Linked DNA regions of Homo sapiens. The protein of the gene in region 1 purifies or fractionates together with the protein of each later gene. This does not show direct contact. Each region holds a gene or a part of one and is shown on either strand. Other genes may lie near its edges.

The links. Proteins that work in one complex are often made in the same cells at the same time.
Region 2: the proteins of AHCY (region 1) and GMPS fractionate together in Homo sapiens (co-fractionation; 2 studies listed by BioGRID). This does not show direct contact.
Region 3: the proteins of AHCY (region 1) and RCC2 purify together in Homo sapiens (affinity purification with mass spectrometry; 2 studies listed by BioGRID, with this or other methods). This does not show direct contact.

Annotation. Positions count from the first base shown.
Region 1 is NC_000020.11:34,300,350-34,307,440, forward strand, and holds the start of AHCY (adenosylhomocysteinase), read right to left. Parts: upstream 3,007-7,091; 5' UTR 2,922-3,006; coding exon 2,894-2,921; intron 2,642-2,893; exon of another isoform or gene 1,432-2,641; coding exon of another isoform or gene 1,398-1,431; intron 1-1,397. UniProt on the Homo sapiens protein: Catalyzes the hydrolysis of S-adenosyl-L-homocysteine to form adenosine and homocysteine. Binds copper ions.
Region 2 is NC_000003.12:155,908,625-155,915,649, forward strand, and holds part of GMPS (GMP synthase [glutamine-hydrolyzing]), read left to right. Parts: intron 1-2,067; coding exon 2,068-2,261; intron 2,262-2,489; coding exon 2,490-2,655; intron 2,656-5,794; coding exon 5,795-5,946; intron 5,947-7,025. UniProt on the Homo sapiens protein: Catalyzes the conversion of xanthine monophosphate (XMP) to GMP in the presence of glutamine and ATP through an adenyl-XMP intermediate.
Region 3 is NC_000001.11:17,408,678-17,415,702, reverse strand, and holds part of RCC2 (protein RCC2), read left to right. Parts: intron 1-1,985; coding exon 1,986-2,166; intron 2,167-2,524; coding exon 2,525-2,630; intron 2,631-3,508; coding exon 3,509-3,581; intron 3,582-5,651; coding exon 5,652-5,729; intron 5,730-6,508; coding exon 6,509-6,613; 3' UTR 6,614-7,025. UniProt on the Homo sapiens protein: Multifunctional protein that may affect its functions by regulating the activity of small GTPases, such as RAC1 and RALA. Required for normal progress through the cell cycle, both during interphase and during mitosis.

The sequences.
Region 1 (7,091 bases):
CAAAACTAAACAAGCAAACCCTCCAATGGCTTCCCTCAATCTTCGGGCCCTATCTGCATGACTGCCTGCCCCTCCTCCATCTCTCCACTTTCCCCACTCACTAGCTGTTCAACACACAGGCTTCCTGACTGACTTCAGGCAAGCTCCACTCATTTCCACCTCAGGGCTTTAACCCAAGCAGTTCTCGGCCTGGAAGGCTCCTCTCAAGCACCTAATACAGTACCTGGCACACAGTAGGTGCTGAAAAAAACCTGGAAACAGGAAAGAACCTAGTATATCCCTGCTAGAGGAACCAAGAGTGCACCAGGGTGACTCAAATAGAGGCATAAGATGAGTTGGGACTTCAGTCCCAGTGAAGTGGGGAACCTACAGTTTTCAGGGGCCAGCATTCAGAGACCAGATTTGTCTTTTGAAAAGACCCCATTGGCTGCTGTGTGGATCTGCGGAGCAAGAGATCCAGGGAGACCTGCAAGGAGAGAGACCAGACTGGGGTGGTGACCGTGGAGACAGACAAGTGGCAGATCTGCTCACATAAAATGGAGACAATACTACTTTATCTGTATGCATGTCTGTGCCACCCCTGTCTCTGGGTCACCTTTGTGTCTCCAGCATGACCTGGCTCAGAGAAGGGGTCAGCAACTGTTTACCGACCATATCTGTCCTCAGAACTGAATGAAAGATCCATGAGAGGGGCTGGCACGTGACAAGGGTGGCAAAGAAAAACAACACAAATCTGAACCTAGTCTGAGTCCCAGCATTTACTAATGACCCAGAGAGGACCCAGAGAGGAGTTTGCTGCAGGTTCCATAGCCAATTAACCGCAGAACCAGAACTGGCAGCCAGGCAGGGCTAGAGCAGAGGCCCCTCTCAAGGCCCCTCCTGGGAGGGGCCCGGCTGTATGGGACAATGGGTTATGCCCTGTGCTGCTAAGCTCCACCCCTCCACCACCACATGTCCCTCCAGCTAAAAATAACTCCTTCAGTGCCCTCGAGGACACTGTGCCAGCCCCACAGTTTTCCCTGGGACCCTCAACTCCAAAGGCACAGGAGAGGCTAGATGCTGCAATCTCTGGAGCTAAGGACTTGCAAAAGTCACAGGAACACCTGTCCCCAGGACAAGCCAAGAGGAACAGCAAGAGCCCCTGTAAACATCAGTTTCTTCATCTGTAAAGTGTGGATAATCATCCCTAGCTTGCTATGCGCCTTAAGTAAAGATAATGCCATATGATCAAGATCTGGCATACAGCAGGGCCTCCTTCCTCCAGCCCCACCCAGCTAAGCTCCCCATCCCCAAATCCAGCTTTATCTCCACCCACACAACCCAATGGCCCCAATCCTGACCCACTAATCTCTCCACAGTATGACAAGCCCCCATTCCAGCTCTACTATTGATGTGACCTTCACATAACCTTTCTGGGTTCAGTTTCAGCATCCACACAATGGAGACAGTCTACTCTGGTAGCAACTTGATGAACTACTTCAACAGAATCTTTGCAAGTCACCTCCCAAGGGCCTCAGTTTCATGCTCTATATAACGGGATTACGTCCACCTCTATGAAGATTATTGTGTAAACACACGTAAATCACCAGATATACAGCAAGTGTTTCCATAAATGTGGATGGCATTCTCCAGACTTAATAGTGTCTTTTTTTGTTTGTTTTTTTTTTTTGAGACAGGGTCTTGCTCTGTTGCCCAGGTTGGAGCGTGGTGGTGCAATCTCGGCTCACTGCAACCTCCGTCTCCCCGGCTCAAACAGTCCTCCTGCCTCAGCCTCCCGAGTAGCTGGGAATGAAGGCGCCCGCCACCACGCCCAGCTAGTTTTTGTATTTTTGGTAGAGATAGCGTTTCACCACGTTGGCCAGGCTGGTCTCGAACTCTTGACCTCAAGTGATTCGCCCACCTCGGCCTCTCAAAGTGCTGGGACTACAGGGGTGAGCCACCACACCCGGTCCAATAGTGTCAAAGTTACTTGAAAAGCTACCAGCCAAACTGAACTGGTTTTTGCTGAAAATTCACTAGGATTGTTCCGCGTGTATTCGCTTGCACACAGTGGTGAAAGGGTGCGCTCAGAGATCTAGATGGCCTGCGTTCCAATCTTGCTCCATCACCACCAGCTGTAAGACTGAGGGCAAGTTACCTCTGCCTCAGGATTCTCATCATAAAATGAGAACAGTTTCCCTATAGAGCCATGAGACTAGAATAAAGCTAGAAGGCAGTGCCGATCCCACAGGAAACACTAAGTAAACGTTAACTATCCCTGTATTACACTTCAATCGGTGGGACAGCAGGATTTTTCAAACCACTCCAAATTTTCTTCGAGATTTCTGCAAGGCTGCCCCTGCTGGAGGGGTGGGGGACCCCACAGGTTGGGTAACTGGCCCAAAGTCCCAGGGGAGAGGAGGATCGGAGCCGGCCTGGGGCTCGCTTTCCAGGCCTCTCCTCATACACCCTCCGGGGTGCCCTCGCCGTCCCTGTAGGAGGCCCAGAGAGGGGTGGACGCTCGTCGGGGCCGCCCAGCTGGACAGGGTCCGGTCCAGGCCTAGGAGGCCGGGCGCAGGCCCCCCGAGCAGGGTCCGGCAGGTGCCAGCCGTCCCAGGCCGTGGCCAGGTGTGCTCTCCCGCGGAGCACGCCGCCAGTTTGCGGCTCGCAGACCGCGCGGCGGCCCCGGCGTCGCGGGGCATGCTGGGACTTGTAGTCCACGGCCACCCGGAACGGCCCGCTCATGGCCGCGCGAGAACTCCAACTTCCAGCTGGCTTCGCGCGGCCAGAAACGCGCCGAGGCTGCGATTCCAGGGGGTCCAGAGAGCCCCGAGTCGGCCCTGCAGCCCCCGCCACGAACAAGCCCCGGGCGGGTGCCGGGCGGCCGCAACCGGCTGCAGGTCCTGGGACTCACCGACTTTGTAGGGCAGTTTGTCAGACATGCTGGCGGCACTCGTGATGGAAACGGGCGAAGGGGGCTGGGCCTCAGTCTGGGAACAGGAACTGGGCGGGCAGCGCCGAGCAGGGATATGCGCGTGGCGCCGACGCCTTTAAATATCTTCCTCGCACTTGCATATTCATGACCCGCTGGGGCGGGGCCCAACGCGCAGGGCGGAGCCGGAGGGGATTTCGATCCCTGAAAAGAAGCCTCAGAATTTCACAAGGCGTGGCCCCAGGAGTCTCACTCACCGGTCCGGAAGGGAGCGCCGGGAGAGGCCTGAGAGCCAGCCGGGCCGTCCTCTCGCTGGTTCAGCCAGTTGATTCAGTGTCAAAACCCAGCGGAACTGAAATTCCGCCAGTTCACTTCCCTGTGCCTCAATTTCCTCATCTGTAAAATGGGCCAAATGACATCTGCCACACAGATTATTATAAGTAAAGTTGCAGGCCAGGCGCGGTGGCTCACACCTGTAATCCCAGCACTTTGGGAGGCCAAGGCGGGAGGATCGCTTGAGCCCAGGAGTTCAAGACCATCCTGGGCAACACAGTGAGACCTGAACTCTACAAAAAAAAATTAAAAATTAGCCGGGCGTGGTGGCGCGCGCTTGTGGTCCCAGCTACTTGGGACGCGGAGGCGGGAGGGAGGATCTTTTGAGCCTGGAGATCGAGGCTGCAGTGAGCTATCATCCCACCACAGCACTTGAGCCTGGGCGAAAGGGCAAGACCCTATCTCAAAAAAACCAAAACAAAGTTAAGTTGCCATTTGTCAGGTACCTACTGACATCCCAAACATTCGCCTTACTCCAAGTAACCAACACCCTGAATTTAAGTAAGTTTGCATACATTTCTTATACTTTTACTGCATCCGTATATCATTAAATAGTTCTGTGTTTAGCACCTTTATATATCAACCGTATTTACCCTTCTGCAACTTGCTTTTTTCTGTGAGCATTATATTTATGAGACTCATGCATATAGCTTGAGTATATTCATTTTTGCTGCTGTATAATTCAGTCATCCCAGGCATGGGAAGGGGAAATTGGTTTCAGGACCTCTGTGGACTCCAAAACCCTTCTATGTTCAAGTCCCTCATATAAAATGAGGCAGTATTGGCATATAACCTATGCACATTCCTCCGTACACTTTAATCATCTCTAGATTACTTATAACTAATATAATGTAAATGCTATGCAAATGGTTGTTTTGTAATTTGTATTATTTTTATAGTTATGTTTTTTTAATTGCTTTTTTTCCCCTGAATTTTTTTTTTTTTTTATGGAGTCTCACTCTGTCGCCCACACTGGAGTGCAGTGGCACCATCTAGGCTCGCTGCAACCTCCACCTCCCGGGTTCAAGCAATTCTCCTGCCTCAGCCTCCCGAGTGGCTTGGATTACAGGCACGCACCACCACACCTGGCTAATTTTGTTTTTTCTTTTTTTGAGATAGAGTTTGGCGCTTGTTGCCCAGGCTGGAGTGCAATGGCATGATCTTGGCTCACACCAACCTCTGCCTCCCGGATTCAAGCGATTCTCTTGCCTCAGCCTCCCGAGTAGCTGGGATTACAGGCATGAGCCACCACGCCTGGCTAATTTTGTATTTTTAGTAGAGACGGGGTTTCTCCATATTGGTCAGGCTAATCTCGAACTCCCGACCTCAGGTGATCCGCCAGCCTCTGCCTCCCAAAGTGCTGGGATTACTGGCGTGAGCCACCGTGCCCGGCCTCTACTCATTTTTTAACCTAAAAATGAGAAAAGAATTAAACTCTTCTGGCCGGGCGCGTGGCTCACGCCTGTAATCCCAGCACATTGGGAGGCCGAGGCGGGCGGATCACGGGGTCAGGAAATCGAGACCATCCTGGCTAACAGGGTAAAACCCCATCTCTACTAAAAATACAAAAAAAAAAAAAAATTAGCTGGGCGTGGTGTCGGGAGCCTGTAGTCCCAGCTACTCGCAAGGCTGAGGCAGGAGAATGGCGTGAACCCGGGAGGCCGAGCTTGCAGTGAGCCGAGATCGCACCACTGCACTCCGGCCTGGGCGACGGAGGGAGACTCTTGTCTCAAAAAATAAAAAATAAAAATAAGAATTAAGGTCTTCTATGACATAGTAAATGTATTGGTCTCACTTGATCTGTACATCTGACCTCTGTCTGAGAGTCATGAGGGCCGATGTCAAGCAGAGACTTCCTGAGGGAACGAGGGTCCACGCCTGGGAGGTGGGCAGCAGGGTCCTCACGCATCCCTTTCAGCATTCTGCAGTGCATTGCAGTGTGTAGTGAGTCGTGTCAGTCTAACTAAACGTAGGATCATGTTACTAGGTTGTCCTACGAGAACAGAAAAATGGCTTCAAAATATTCCTGCAAAGAAATGGCAAGTTCCAGATACTGTGAAAATTACCAGCACAGCAAACAAGTAGAAAAGGACACAGCTGACAGGTCTCTTTCTGGTATGAATGCTGGTCTTTGTCAGCCATGTTGTAAGGAATGTAATAAAATTTGAGAAAACAATGAAAAAGACACTTTGAAATATGAATTTACGGACCAGGCGCAGTGACTCACACCTGTAATCCCAGCACTTTGGAAGCCGGGGCGAGTGGATCACTTGGGGTCAGGAGTTCCAGACCAGCCTGGCCAACATAGTGAAACCCTGTATCTACTAAAAATACAAAAATTAGCCGGGCGTGATGGTGCACGTCTGTAAACTCAGCTACTCAGGAGGCTGAGGGACAAGAATTGTTTGAACCCAGGAGGCGGATGTTGCATTGAGCCAAGATTGCGCCACCGCACTCCAGCCTGGGTGACAGAACAAGACTGCCTCAAAAAAAAAAAAAAAAAAAGAAAAAAAAAGAAATGTGAATTTACATGCCCTCTCATTAATTAATGATGACTCTCATCCTCACTGTATATCGTGCTTTGAGATATCAGCTAATGAGATATTTGCTAATATTTGTACCGTTAAGTTCATATGAACAAAACTTTGGAGACTGCTGGTCTCAGGAGAAGGTCTAAGCACCTTAGTCTGGCCTTATGCAACCTCTCTAGCAGCAGAATGTTCTAGCCTATGGATATATTGCAATTGATATAGCCAATTTCCTATTATTTCAGCTTCTTTTTTTTTTTTTTTGAGAAAGAGTGTCTCTCTGTTGCCCAGGCTGGAGTGCAATGGTGTGATCTCGGCTCACTGCAACCTCTGTCTCCCAGGTTCAAAGTGATTCTCGTACCTTAGCCTCCCAAGTACCTGGGATTACAGGCACACGCTCCCACACCCGGATAATTTTTGTATTTTTAATAGAGACGGTGTTTCACCATGTTGGCCAGACTGGTCTTGAACTTCTGACATCAAGTGATCCTCCCGCCTTGGCCTTCCAAAGTGCTGGGATTACAGGTGTAAGCCACCACGCCCAGCCAGGTTCTTTTAATGGATGAACAGTTAAACAAATTGGTACAGCCATACCATGAAATAATACTCAGCAAAAGGAATAAACTTTGATAAATGCAGCAACCTGGATGAATCCTTAGAGAATTATGCTGAGTGACAAAAACCAATTCCAATATATTACATAGTATATTATTTCATTTCTATAATATTCTTGAAATGACCAAATTATAGAAATGAACCACAGATTAGTGGTTGCCAGGTATTAGGTAGGGGACGGGAGCAAGAGAGAGGTAAATGTGGCTGTAAAAGGGCAACATGAGGAAACTTTGTGGTGATGGAATGTTCTGGATCTTGCTTTATCATTGTCAGTATCCTAGTTGAGATGTTTTATTATGGTTTTGCAAGATGTCACCATTGGGAGAAAGCGAGCAAAGGGCATTGGGATTTCTCTGTGTTTTCTTTGTTTCTTTTTTCTTTTTCTTTTTTTTTTTTTTTGAGACAGGGTCTGCTATCTAGGCTCACAGCAACCTCCACCTCTCCCAGGCTCAAGCCATTCTCCTGCCTCAGCCTCCTGAGTAGCTGGGATTACAGGTGCATGTCGCTACCACCCGGCTAATATTTATATTTTTAGTAGAGATGGGCTTTCGCCATGTTGGCCAGGCTGGTCTTGAACCTCTGACCTCAAATGATCCACCTGCTTCAGCCTCCCAACATGCTGAGGTTTTTTTGTTTTTTGTTTTTTGTTTTTTTTGTCGGAGTTTCGCTCTTGTTGCCCAGGCTGGAATGCAATGGCAAAATCT
Region 2 (7,025 bases), on another chromosome or scaffold:
GCTGTTAGATTGAATATGGAGTGGGGAAGAAAAAGTAGAATCAAGTTTTAGCTCCCAAGTTTTTTTGCCTGAGGAACCAAAAGGAAGATGTTTCTATTTACCTGATTGGAAAGACCTCAGGAGTTTGAGTTTGCATATTAAATTCAAGATGGTTTATTAAACATCAAAACAAAGGTGCTGAGTAGGCAGTTGTATATATGAGCCTGGACTTTAGAGGAGAAAACTGGGCTGGAGGTATAAATTTGGGGGTTTACCAGCATACAGACAGAATTTTAAGGTGATGAGAGTATGAGATCTCTTAGAATATTTAGAAAAGAGATTTAAGGGCTGAGGACTGAGTAACTTCCATGTGTAGAGGTGGGCAAGATGAAGAGGAACCAGCAAAGAGATTCAGAAGGAATAGACAGTAAAATAAGTGAACCAAGAGAGTGGTATGCTGAGAGCCAAATAAAGTGTGAAGTACTGTGGTATAGTAGAATGAGTATGAGTTTGGGAGCCTGTCAGGCCTGATTTAGTTACTTAATTACCTGAGAGTTCATACAAGTTTCTTGATATCTCAGAGCCATAAAATAGGAGTAACACATGCACATGTAAAATACCTAGCCTAACATCTATTGCCCCATAGGTAATATTTGCCAGAAACACATTTGTCAAGTAGTTGAATATATTTTTGTGGTTAATAGTAGTCAAGAAAGAAACAGTATATTCTGACAAGTCTAATATATGAGATTCTTTTAATATAAGAACTTGGTAGCTGTACAATGCATTTGAAAGCCATGTGCAACTGAGAACCAAAATTGAATTATCAATGCACTAGATAGACAAGGCAACTGAAGTAACTTGGGTGGAGAGGTGAGAATACTGTGAAACAATCTCTATGTGGGACTTAATGTACGTCCTATACCTCATTAATTGCTGTGTCAAGAAAGACCTTTATAAAGAAAGGTTATAGCAATGTAGTTTTTGTCTTTGTTATGTATTTCCTATTCCTATAGCTAAAAATCTACTGAGACATACCAGTTTTAACATTTATAGAGGAAGAAGGCTGGGTGCAGTGGCGCACACCTGTAATCCCAGCACTTTGGGAGGCCGAGGCAGGAGGATTACTTGAGCCCAGGAGTTCAACAGGCAACAAGATAAAACCCCATCTCTTCAAAATATTTAAAAATTAGCTGAGTGTGGTGGCATGCACCTGTTGTTCCAGCTACTCAGGAGGCTGAGGTGGAAGGATCACTTGAGCCCAGGAGATCGAGACTATAGTGAGCTATGATTACACCTCTGCACTCCAGCCTGGGTGACAGAGCAGTAAATACCCTGTCTAAAAAATAAAATAAAATAGGCCGGGCGCAGTGGCTCACGCCTGTAATCCCAGCACTTTGGGAGGCTGAGATGGGCGGATTACAAGGTCAGGAGATCAAGACCAGCCTGGCCAATATGGTGAAACCCTGTCTCTACTAAAAATATAAAAGAAATAAGCCGAGCGTGGTGGCACACACCTGTTGTTCCAGCTACTCGGGAGGCTGAGGCAGAAGAATAGTTTGGACATGGAAGGCAGAGGTGACAAGTGAGCCAAGATCGCACCGCTGCACTCCAGCCTGGGCAACAGAGCGAGACTCCGTCTCAAAACAAAACAAAACAAAAAACAAACAAACAAATAAAATTGGCTGGGAGCAGTGGCTCATGCCTGTAATCCTAGCACTTTGGGAGGCTGAGGCAGGTGGATCACTTGAGGCCAGGAGTTTGAGGCCACCAGGCCAACATAGTGAAACCCTATCTCTACTAGAAATACAAAAAATCAGCTGGGCGTGGTGGCACACGCCTGTAATGCCAGCTACTTGGGAGCCTGAGGCATGAGAATTGCTTGAACCCAGGAGGCAGAGGTTGCAGTGAGCCGAGATCATGCCACTGCACTCCAGCCTGAGCGACAGAGCAAGACTCTGTCTCAAAAAAAAAAAAAAAAAAAAAATGAAACCATAGAGGCAGAGATTGTGAGAAATTAATTGTGGTTATTGCTTGAGTCTTTTCAGCATGAAAAAATTTTAATTTGTGACTATTTTCTCTATAAAGGCATAGCAAATGAATCTAAAAAGTTATATGGAGCACAGTTCCACCCTGAAGTTGGCCTTACAGAAAATGGAAAAGTAATACTGAAGAATTTCCTTTATGATATAGCTGGATGCAGTGGAACCTTCACCGTGCAGAACAGAGAACTTGAGTGTATTCGAGAGATCAAAGAGAGAGTAGGCACGTCAAAAGTTTTGGTAAGCAAATTATTATCTGGAAGTCTACAAATTTATATCAATAATATTGGAATCCAGGAGTTAGAGTCCTCAACACAGCCCTTAAATGTTCTACAGTTTTAGAGTGCTTTTCCAGTTACCATACATATCTTTGGTATAAATAGCACTTTTAGATAAAGATTTAAGCCAATAGTGTTTATTTTCTTTTTGCTTGTTTTGCTCATTTTGATTTTTCATTTTACCCCGTAGGTTTTACTCAGTGGTGGAGTAGACTCAACAGTTTGTACAGCTTTGCTAAATCGTGCTTTGAACCAAGAACAAGTCATTGCTGTGCACATTGATAATGGCTTTATGAGAAAACGAGAAAGCCAGTCTGTTGAAGAGGCCCTCAAAAAGCTTGGAATTCAGGTCAAAGGTATTGAAGAACCTCAGAAAAGTTAACTTACATGTTAGGACTTGTTTAATCAAATCTAGTCTTATGGTTTAAATGAGCACAATTACAGTTTTCTCAGTATGCTCAAGGTTGAAAATGTTTTTTATTTTTACAATTACCTCTGGTGTAAGAGAGGTCTCAGTATAAATTTTTAAACTATTGATTCTGCTAATTTAATACATAGATTGATAAATTAACATTTTCTAGCTACTGTTCAGTTCTCTTCTAGTCATTCACTTTTAAAATTATCTTTTCCTGGCCAGGCGCGGTGGCTCACGCCTATAATCCCAGCACTTAGGGAGATCAAGGTGGGTGGATCACCTGAGGTCAGGAGTTTTGAGATCAGCCTGGCCAACATGATGAAACCCCATCTCTACTAAAAATACAAAAAATTAGCCAGTCTTGGTGGTGGGCGCCTGTGATCCCAGCTACTCGAGAGGCTGAGGCAGGAGAATCACTTGAACCTGGGAGGTGGAGGCTGCAGTAAGCAGAGATCATGCCACTGCACTCCAGCCTGGGCAACAAGAGCGAAACTCCATCTCAAAAAAAAAAAAAAAAGAAATTATCTTTTCCCACTCTATTTAATGATATTTATGTACGAGGCTACCCAAGCCCTCCTCAGGTATGGGTATACAGATTATTTTGCAAACAGAAAAGCTTATTGTGGGAGAGGTAAAGATTCTATACTTTTTTTTTAAAGGGCCACTAGTAAACTTCTTAGTCCTTAATAACATTTACTTTTGTAGATACCTTTTATACTTTTTAAAAACAAGGTGCAATTGATAGTTATAATGAAATGAGGTCAGTAGTTTAATGATAAAAGTTATTGTACATATTATGGAATTAATTGGAATTGATACCAAAAGGCTGAATAAAATGAAGACTTGTAGGTAAGTATGATGTGAACATGAGTCTATTTTTTTGAAACTTCTCTAAAATAACAGTAAAAGCATAAAACAGTGTAATACCTTAAGGATGTGGGATAGAGGAGATGACAGAAGACAGATGGTTTCAATAAAGTGTTGGAAAGTGGAAAGCAGATGGGTAAAGGTGGATTTTCTCTGTTTAAGCTAGGGGGGTCTCTCCCAACATCCTGGGAAGGTCCCCAATGGTATCTTCACATGGTGATAGGTTTTTGTGAAATTTGCAAGATATTTTGATAATTTGTAGTTGTTTATTTTCTTTCAACTCTGACTTGTTTTCTGTTAGGTGGTGCTGGAATAGCTGTGGGCATTTTGAAATCAGGCTAAGACAAAGATGAGCTGGGGATGTGCTTAGTATGGGTTTAGTGGTATATATGTGATTTGCAATTATTTCTGTGTATAGTTAAGTACTTGTTAGCCATCCCAGTATAACTTAAGATTTTTAGTATCTTATTTGTTATTCTGGTTCTTGAAGGAGTCCTTCAAATTGTAAAACTTGGATCTGTCCCTGGTAACTGACATAGCAGAATGGAGGAATTCACAACCTTGGGGTGGGGTGGGAAGGAAGCCAATAAAAAGCAAGCTGATTTGTGCTGTAGACTTCTGGGGAGGCTCAGGAATTTGAAGCATTGGGTTCTTTTTGGGACATTGGTCTCTGGGTTAGCCTAAAACAGGGATTAGTTAAAAATCTGAGAAGCAGATCCTTTTCCTTAGCACAGGAGCAAACTGTGCTCTCCTTCCCCATCAGAACACTGTGGATGTATTCTCTAGAGGGGCTAAACGAGAGGTTCTGGGCTTGAGCCTACTAATACCAGGCATAGTTGAGGGTGGAGGTAAGACTCTACATTAAGAACAGGATTAAGTAAAATTCTCTATGCTGAATGGTGATTCCCTCTTCCTACCACTTCCTCTGTTTAACTGCCAGAATGCCAATAGGCAGGAGAGTAGATATGTCTTCTCTGGGTAGTTGACCAGGTACAGGAAAGACCTACAAATTCACTGGCTTTTCCACAATGAAATAGCCAGCTGCCTTGTCATCTTACGGTGAAGGCCTCCAGTAGCTAAGTTTTATTAGCAAATAGAGATCTTAGTTTTTAGTTTCTTGTCATTAAATAAAAAGCCAAGGATTGTTAAATGTATGTTCATAAATATTAGTTTTACAAGACACTAGGGTGTGATTCCAACAGCTTTGACTCCGTTTAGGAGCCGGTGCTTTTGACTTCTTTGGGGCTAAGCTTCTTGCTGTGGCTTCTGCTTGTTGCTCTGGTGAAGCACTGAAGAGAGGGAAAACAATCAGCATAAATTTTTTTTTTTTTTTTGAGACAGAGTCTTGTTCTGTTGCCCAGGGCAGAATGCAGTGGCACAACCTCGGCTCACTGCAACCTCTGCCTCCCAGGTTTAAGCAATTCTCTTGCCTCAGCCTCTGAGTAGCTGGGATTGCAGACATGTGCCACTACGCCCCACTAATTTTTGTGTTTTTAGTAGAGATGTGGTTTTGCCATTTTGGCCAGGCTGGTCTCACACTGCTGACCTCAAGTGATCCACCCAACTTGGCCTCCCAAAGTGCTGGTATTACAGGTGTGAGCCACCGTGCCGGCCCTAATCAGCATAATTTGTGATGTCATGGCCCTAGATCTAAATGCCAGGAGATTCTCACAGAAACAAAATTTAATGAGTGCCTGTATCTGAATTCTGTTACTCAGGATTTATTGATAGTTCTTTTTCTTTTCTTATTTTTTTTTTGGGGATGGAGTCTCTCTCTGTCACCCAGGCTGGAGTGCAGTGGCACAATCTCTGCTCACTGCAAGCTCCGCCTCCCGGGTTCACACCATTCTCCTGCCTCGGCTTCCCAAGTAGCTGGGACTACAGGCACCCGTCACCACACCCAGCTAATTTTTTGTATTTTTAGTAGTGATGGGATTTCACCATGTTAGCCAGGATGGTCTTGATCTCCTGACCTCGTGATCCACCTGTCTCGGCCTCCCAAAGTGCTGGGATTATAGGCATGAGCCACCGGGCCCGGCCAATAATTCTTGAATATTGATAGTTTATTGAAATTTGTAGGCAGATTTAGGGGAGATCAAAGGACTGCTCTTCAGACTGGGAAAGAAATAGCTTTTCTTTCTGTATTTTGACTTGTTATTTTTGATTAAAAAACATGTTATACCAATTTAAAACGCTTCTCCCCTTTCCTCCAGTGATAAATGCTGCTCATTCTTTCTACAATGGAACAACAACCCTACCAATATCAGATGAAGATAGAACCCCACGGAAAAGAATTAGCAAAACGTTAAATATGACCACAAGTCCTGAAGAGAAAAGAAAAATCATTGGGGATACTTTTGTTAAGGTACCTTTGTTTTTAATATCCTCAACATGTACTATTTTTGATGTGAATCTTAGTATTTGTTTTTCCTTGTCACTATATCAAATAACCAAATTAGCTAATTTTAATCCTTTTTCTTATGTGGCTGAGAGTTTTATTGTATATTGTCATTATATTGACCAGTAGAAACTGTTTTATGTTTTTTTGTTGTTGTTTGGTTTTTTTTTTGTTTTTTTGAGACAGAGTCTTGCTGTGTCACCAGGCTGGGCTGGAGTGCAGTTGCACGATCTCGGCTCGCTGCAACCTCTGCCTTCTGGGTTCAAGTGATTCTCCTGCCTCAGCCTCCTAAGTAGCTGGGACTACAGGGGTGCACCATCATGCCCAGCTAATTTTTGTACTTTTAGTAGAGACGGGGGTTTCACCATGTTGGCCAGGTTGGTCCGGATCTCCTGACCTCATGATCCGCCCGCCTCAGCCTCCCGAACTTCTGGGATTACAGGTGTGAGCCACTATGCCCAGCCAACTGTTTTATGTTTTAATAAACATGTTTGCCTACATTGCCAGGCTATTATTTTAAGAATAGATGTCTTTAAGAGTAGATGTATTCAGCTTATCATAGACTTTAATTCATTGATTATCTCAATGGCTAATTTCAAGCTCTTGAATGGAATGTTCACATACCTTTGTTTTTGTTTTTTTTTTTTTTTGGAGGCGGAGTTTTGTTCTTGTCACTCAGGCTGGAGTACAATGGAGCGATCTTGGCTCACGGCAACTTTCACCTGCTGGGTTCAAGCGATTCTCCTGCCTCAGCCTCCCGAGTAGCTGGGATTACAGGCATGCACCACCATGCCCAGCTAATTTTTTTCTTTTTTTGAGATGGAGTCTCACTCTGCCGCCCAGGCTGGAGTGTAGTGGTGCAATCTTGGCTCACTGCAAACTTTGCCTCCAGGGTTCAAGCGATTCTCCTGCCTCAACTTCCTGAGTAGCTGGGATTACAGGCGTGTGCCACCATGCCCGGCTAGTTTTTGTATTTTTAGTAGAGACGGGGTTTCACCATGTTAGTCAGGCTGGTCTCAAACTCCTGACCTTGTGATCTGCCTGCC
Region 3 (7,025 bases), on another chromosome or scaffold:
AGTTTCACTTTTTCACCCAGGCTGGAATGCAGTGGTGGGATCTCAACTCACTGCAACCTCTGTCTTCCTGTTTCAAGCTATTCTCCTGCCTCAGCCTCCTGAGTAGCTGGGATTAGAGGCACCTGCCACCATTCCTGGCTAATTTTGTATTTTTAGTAGAGATGGGGTTTCACCATGTTGGCCAGGCTGGTCTCAAACTCCTGACCTCGTGATCCACCTGCCTCGGCCTCCCAAAGTGCTGGGATTATAGGTGTGAGCCACCGCGCCCGGCTGTTAGTGTATCTTTTAATTTTAATGGCCTTCCTGTGGTTCTTCTGTCTGAGAATGCCTAGGAGTCTCTTTGTTCTATGCTTTGTTGAAAAAGCCTGGGCTAGGATTCCAGAGATCAAGTTGGTCCTCCCCACTGAGTGGTCTCAGCTCACCACCTCCTTCCCTTGGAATCTTCTTGCCGATGAAGAATGCCCAGGGAATTGGGCTAGGACTAGGGTAGGAGATTTCAGTTTGTGCAAGTCCAAAAACTGATTTGTTTTGTCTGATGTAGTCAGGGGAAATAAAGTTGGCTCTTGTTTAGGGCCTTATAGGCCAAGTTTTTTAGTAAGTTGTAGATTCCCATGGTTTAGACATGAAACATCAAAGAACTGAATTGGCATGTCAGAAGATGGGAAAACGAGACTGAAGAAGATAAATCTTAAACACTTGAAGTGTCTCTGAGTTCATTTCATCAGTGACCAGGTACAGGTTACCTCTGTACCTGTGGGTGAGGGAAGTCTAAAGAAAAATCCAGGCCGGGCGCAGTGGTTCATGTTTGTAATCAGAGGACTTTGGGAGGCCAAGGTGGGCAGATCATTTGAGACCAGCCTGAGCAACATGGTGAGACCCCCATCTCTACAAAAAAACCACAAAAATCAGCTGGGCATGGTGGTGCACACCCAAGTCCTAGCGACTTGGGAGGCTGAGGTAGGAGAATCGCTTGAGCCCAGGAGGTGGAGGTTGTGGTGAGCCGTGATCGTGCCATTGCATTCCAGCCTAGGTAACAGAGCACGAGACCCTCTCGAGGGGGGGAAAAGAAACGAAAAATCCAGGAACAGGTAGGCCTTTTCTGTTCTTTCTGCAATTGAATCTGTTTTTTTTTTGTTGTGTTTTTTTTTTTGTTTCGTTTTGTTTTTTTTTTTTGAGATGGAGTCTCATTCCGTCACCCAGGCTGGAGTGCAGTGACGCTATCTCGGCTCACTGCAGCCTCCGCCTCCCAGGTTCAAGAGATTCTCCTGTCTCAGCCTCCTGAGTAGCTGGGATTACAGGTGCACACCACTGTGCCCAGCTAATTTTTTTGTATTTTAGTAGAGATGGGTTTCACCATGTTGCCCAGGCTGGTCTTGAATTCCTGAGTTCAGGCAATCCACCTGCCTCAGCCTCCCAACGTGCTAGGATTACAGGCATGAGCCACTGCATCTGGCCGAATCTCTGTTGTAGTGGGAATCAAATGATTGCCCAACTCTCAGGAGACATAGCCCTGTTGCTTCTGATTAAGGAAAGGGTTAAGACTTGTAACTTAAATAAATAAACAGAACAAAAAAGGATTGGAAAATGGAGTCCCTGGCAGAGAAAATAGCAAACTGGGCTTATTGAATGCATGCCATTTTGCTACACTTGCTCCTGTTGCCTCCTCCCCCACTGCTGGAGGCGGGAGGTAGAGGATCTTTCTGCTGGAGGCAGGCAAAGGATATTTCTTTGGTTTTTGGAGACAGGGTTTCACCATGTTGGCCAGGCTGGTCTCAAACTCCTGACCTCAAGTGATCCACCCACCTTGGCCTCCCAAAGTGTTGGGATTAGATGTGAACCACCGTGCCCGGCTGGTAGGGGATCTTGAATGTTGCTGTTCCTTTGCCCTTAGCATTTGCACCAGGTTGTCTGCACAGAAACGATGACCCCTCTTGTTGCCTGTTGGAAGTCTGTTTGTTCCAACCCTGTGTTTTCTTTCCTTGCAGCTGGTCCTGGACTCCCAGAAGCGAGTCTTCTCCTGGGGCTTTGGTGGCTATGGCCGGCTGGGCCACGCAGAGCAGAAGGATGAGATGGTCCCCCGCCTGGTGAAGCTGTTTGACTTCCCTGGGCGTGGGGCTTCCCAGATCTATGCTGGTTACACCTGCTCCTTTGCTGTCAGTGAAGTGGGTTAGTGATTTCTGCCCCCTGGCTTATCAGTGCTCTGGTGCGGAACCGTGTAGCCATTGTCCTGTCCCTAGACCACGAACCCCAATTCTCTTTACCTCCCAGTGTTCTTTATTTTTTTGAGACAGGAACTCGTTGTGTTGTCCAGGCCGGTGTCGAACTCCTGGGCTCAAGCAGTCCTACCACCACAGCGTCCTGAGTAGCTAGGACTGCACAGGCACGCCACCACGCCTGGCTCCAGTTATCTTTTAGACAGAACACTTGTTTGCCATCCCGTCCTCTTTTCACCCTGATAATACTGAAGATGAGACTCAGCTCTCGATGTCTGGTCACGCTGGGAACATGTTTTGTCTTCCCTTAGGTGGTCTGTTTTTCTGGGGGGCCACCAACACCTCCCGTGAATCTACCATGTACCCAAAAGCAGTGCAGGACCTCTGCGGCTGGAGAATCCGGAGCCTGGCTTGTGGGTAGGTGGCAGCATCTCCTGTGGGTATGAGGTCTCTTCCTTTCATGGGGGTGTCAGACACACCCATGGGGTGCCCCTCCCTGATGGGGCTCTGTTTCTGCTGCCTGTTGGGCTGTCCTCAGCAGGCCATCTGACACACTGAATCCCAGAGTCCGGGGGTACAGGAGGGGAGAGGGCCCATTTGCTGCTAGAACAGATGGCTGTTCCCTGTCTTGTGGGAAGAAAGTCATTTTGAAGGTTTCTGTTCAAAGAAATAAACAAGCAGAGCTTGATGTATTCCTACGCTGCAGGTTGAAAATTATACGTAGTTGGAAACGTAGCAGGACTTGAGTTGCTGTGACACTGGGAAGACGACATTGTCTTGGCAGCAGTGGTTTGTAGTTCATTTCAGGACACCTGTTGAGTTAGCTAGCACTTCTTGCTGAGGAGTTGGATTTATCAGCTGGCAGGTGTGGGTGGAACAGTATGAGGGGCCTCTGTCGGCGTGGCTTTAATCTGTTGAAGGCTCTAGCCCTGCCCAAATCATTATGCATGAAGGCTGCTCCCTCTGGAACAGGCTTTCACTTTATCCTGATCTGGTCTCCTCTTCCCAAAGCGACCTCCCACTGAGAGAGAGCTGTGCAGGATGCACAGCAAGGTCCCCTGCCTTTGGCCCCTAGGCCTGTCTAAGGGCTTTGTTGTTTTGTTGAAGCGTTGAGTGGCCTGCACGGAACAATCTTAGGATTGAGGAGAAACCTGTTGGCCCTGTTATTGTGTTTGCTACTTGGAATGAGTACGCCAAGGGAAAAGTGGCAGCTCACACTCATGCCCTTGAGCCATAGCTGCGTGGGTGCAGGTCTGGGGCTGCTGGCCCTGCAGTGACAGCCTGCCTGTTTGCAGGAAGAGCAGCATCATTGTGGCCGCCGATGAGAGCACCATCAGCTGGGGTCCGTCACCGACCTTTGGGGAACTGGTAAGCTGTCACCTGTGCGGGTCAGGGGAAGTGGAAGCCAGTCAGGGTGGCTCATGGCCTTTGGGTTCTCTCCACCTGTCTCCCAAAACACACAGAAGAAAAACATTTGGGATTCCCCCCTTATTGTATTAAGGTTTGCAACACGATTGAGTCCCATGAGTTTTCAAGGACAATTCTGTGCTAGTCAGATAATTCTGAGTCATCTCTGCACATTTGTAAACTCTGAAAATTGGGACTTTTCAGATCCGGTTTCCCCTCACATTTTGTAAACCACAGTTGGGTTATGGTAGGAAAAGGGCCTGTTTGTTCCCTCTCCCCTGGAGGCCTAAGTCAGTGGGAAACTCACAGTTGTGGGTGATTTGAGGACATTCTTCATTTTTCCAAATTGAGTTTAAACCTGTGTTTCTGTTGTTAATACCAGTTACTTGAGTGATGAGGTTAGAACTCATGACCCTCAATTTCACACACGTGGCCTTCCGCAAACAAATGTCTTTCATTCTTAGATCCTGGTGCTAGGTGAGTCTTTTTTTTTTTTTTTTTTGAGATGGAGTTTCTCTGTCACCCAGGCTGGAGTGCAGTGGCGCGATCTTGGCTCACTGCACCCTCTGTCTCCCAGGTTCAAATGATTCTCAGTTCTCCTGCTTCAGCCTCCTGAGTAGCTGGGACTCTAGGCGTTTGCCACCACGCCCAGCTAATTTTTGTATTTTTGGTAGAGATGGGGTTTCACCATGTTGGCCAGGCTGTCTTGAACTCCTGACCTTAGGTGATCCACCCGCCTCAACCTCCCAAAGTGCTGGGATTACAGGCGTGAGCCACTGCACCTGGCCAAGGCGGGTCTTTGAGTTTTTGTTAGGAAGACTAGCTTGGCTGTGGAGTGCATCCTGATCTGCCTACACTAGTCATGGTTTGATTCTCCGCTTAACTCTTGGTGGTCTTAGTTTTAGTCCCTTATTTCTTGTTAGAAGCACAGTCTGTCTCCCTCTCCTGCACTCTTGTGGTTGCAAGGTACTCTTGTGGTTGATGGAGAGGAGGGGAAGGAAGGGCGTTCCTTGGTCCCTTGAGCTGTGGCTGGGATGGATGGTGAATGCACCTTTTTCTCGGGGCTCTGCACACCCTTGGAGTCTGGCTCAGATGCTCTGGTGGCCCGATTTGAAACATTGACAGGAAAGAGACAGAGCCTGGCCCAGTTTCTACAGATAGTTCTTAGAGGAGGAAGGATGTTTTCTGGGGCCTATCAGAAATAGACTTTGACCTTCTAAATATAAATTTTGAAACTAGAGGGGAGCAAGGGAGACTTTTTGGGGAGCTTCTCAAGGGTGAGAAGTTGGCCTGGCACCTTGGAGGGAACATCTACTGTGTGGGAAGGCCCGAGGTGGGGCCTGGCAGGAGATGAAACCAGGGACATGTGGGCAGGCCTGGGCTGGGGAGGGAGGGTCCTCCTCTCCCGCCCTGTGGGACCCTCTGTTTCACCTGAGCCAGGGCCTTCAGTCTTTCAATTGCCCAGCTCCACACCTTTGCACAAGACTCCCCCTTAGCTGCGCCAATTCATCCAGTTCCTTCTACCTCTGGGAGGGAAACTGGTTCTCTGGTGCCATTGCTAATAGTCTCCCTGTCACGCTTAAGCCCTTTTATTTTGTTTTGTTTTGGATGGTGATTATTCCACTCTGGATGGTGGAGGCATCAAGGGCATTTGGTCAGCCCGTGTTCTTGGTCGCTTTGGTCCTGAAGGGCCGCAGTTGCCATTCTTCCTGCACTCGTGGTGTCATCTCTTGTCACCAGTGCCATACTCCCCAGAAGGGACTTGTGCACACAGAAGTCCTGCAGGCTAGAGTTGGGCACCTTGGTCTTCCTTAGGTTAAGCGCTAGTCGCCTGCTGGTGGCACCTTTTGTGGATAAACTTGGATGATTCCACCTGGCCCTTGTGTGCAAGGGTGGCCGGGCTTGTCATGGGCCAGAGGGCATCATCACTGGCTTCTGGTTAGTGGGGGCCAGGAAATGTTGCCGTGATTCCCCACTTGTGGACTGAGCCACATGGATCCTCGATTGCGAACATCTTGTTTGCTTCGCCAGGGCTACGGGGACCACAAGCCCAAGTCTTCCACTGCAGCCCAGGAGGTAAAGACTCTGGATGGCATTTTCTCAGAGCAGGTGAGTGGGGGCAGCTGTGCCAGCTCGGGGACGTGTCCGTACCCAGTGGTATGTCACTCCTCATGATTTTGATCATCGCAGTCTGTTTGGGTTGTCTTGTTTACCATCTCAGCTGGCTTTCCTGGTGTCTCACGCTAAGATTTGTTTGAGAGGTAACAATCATTCTGCAGGAGAGAGTGCACAGGGTTGCTGGCCAGGCTGGGTGGCTGTCCTCACCCTTGATGACAGATGGCACCAACTGGCCGCAGCAGATCCACTCTCGGGCGAGCACATCGCTCGCGTCTCCATCACACCCAGGACTCAGATCCACTGGGCTGGAGGCAGGTCCGCAGGTCCACAGAGTAGAGGCTGCGTGGCTGCAGGAGTCAGATGGCGGGGTGAGGCCCCTGCGGCTCAGTCAGCCAGCCTGCTGGCCCTGTCTGCCAAGACACAGAGAGGGGTGGTGCACCTCACCCAGGCAGGATTGTGAGCCAGAGAGGGGGGGGATGGAAGTGGAGCTGGAGCCATGTCCCCACCTGTCCCTGCTGATAAGAGGTGGCCCAGTGGGCTTCCTTCCAGCTGGGTCTCCCAGGGCAGCCTGGAAGGCTCTGATTGGCAGAGCGTTGGTGGCAGTCACATGGAAACTAGCTGTCTTGGGCAGAGGGGCTTTTTGCAGTTTTCAAGGGCACTCTGTTTTTCTCCATGCTGACCCGCTTTAGCAGCCCAGTTTCCAGAGTCTCTTCAACGCATTGATTAGTCCAGGCGCCTCAGGCACACCCAACGCTGATTTGTCCCCCCAGGTCGCCATGGGCTACTCACACTCCTTGGTGATAGCAAGAGATGAAAGTGAGACTGAGAAAGAGAAGATCAAGAAACTGCCAGAATACAACCCCCGAACCCTCTGATGCTCCCGGAGACTCCTCCGACTCCACACCTCTCGCGGCAGCTGTCATTTCCATGTGCACTGGGACGGGAAGTCAAACGAGGAATTTAAAAAAGCAAAAGTTGACCGAAGGTGCATTTTTGTTTAGACTCCCTGAGGTTCCGTTTTACACATGATCCAACGTTAACTACCTTTTTTTCTGTATGCTTTCCAAAGTCCTTTTTTTTCCCTTAATGTTGAATTAAAATACTTGCTCATAGTTGATTTACCATTCCTACAAAAGAGGCAGAAACTTTGAGCAATCTAGGTTTTTTTTTTTTTTAAGTTTTTTCTTTCTTCCTCTCCTGAATACACTCCCCAAAACACCCCTTTCCAGTTACAATTAGCATCGTGATCCAAGCAGATGCCACATGGAAGAGGAATCGCCATTTACT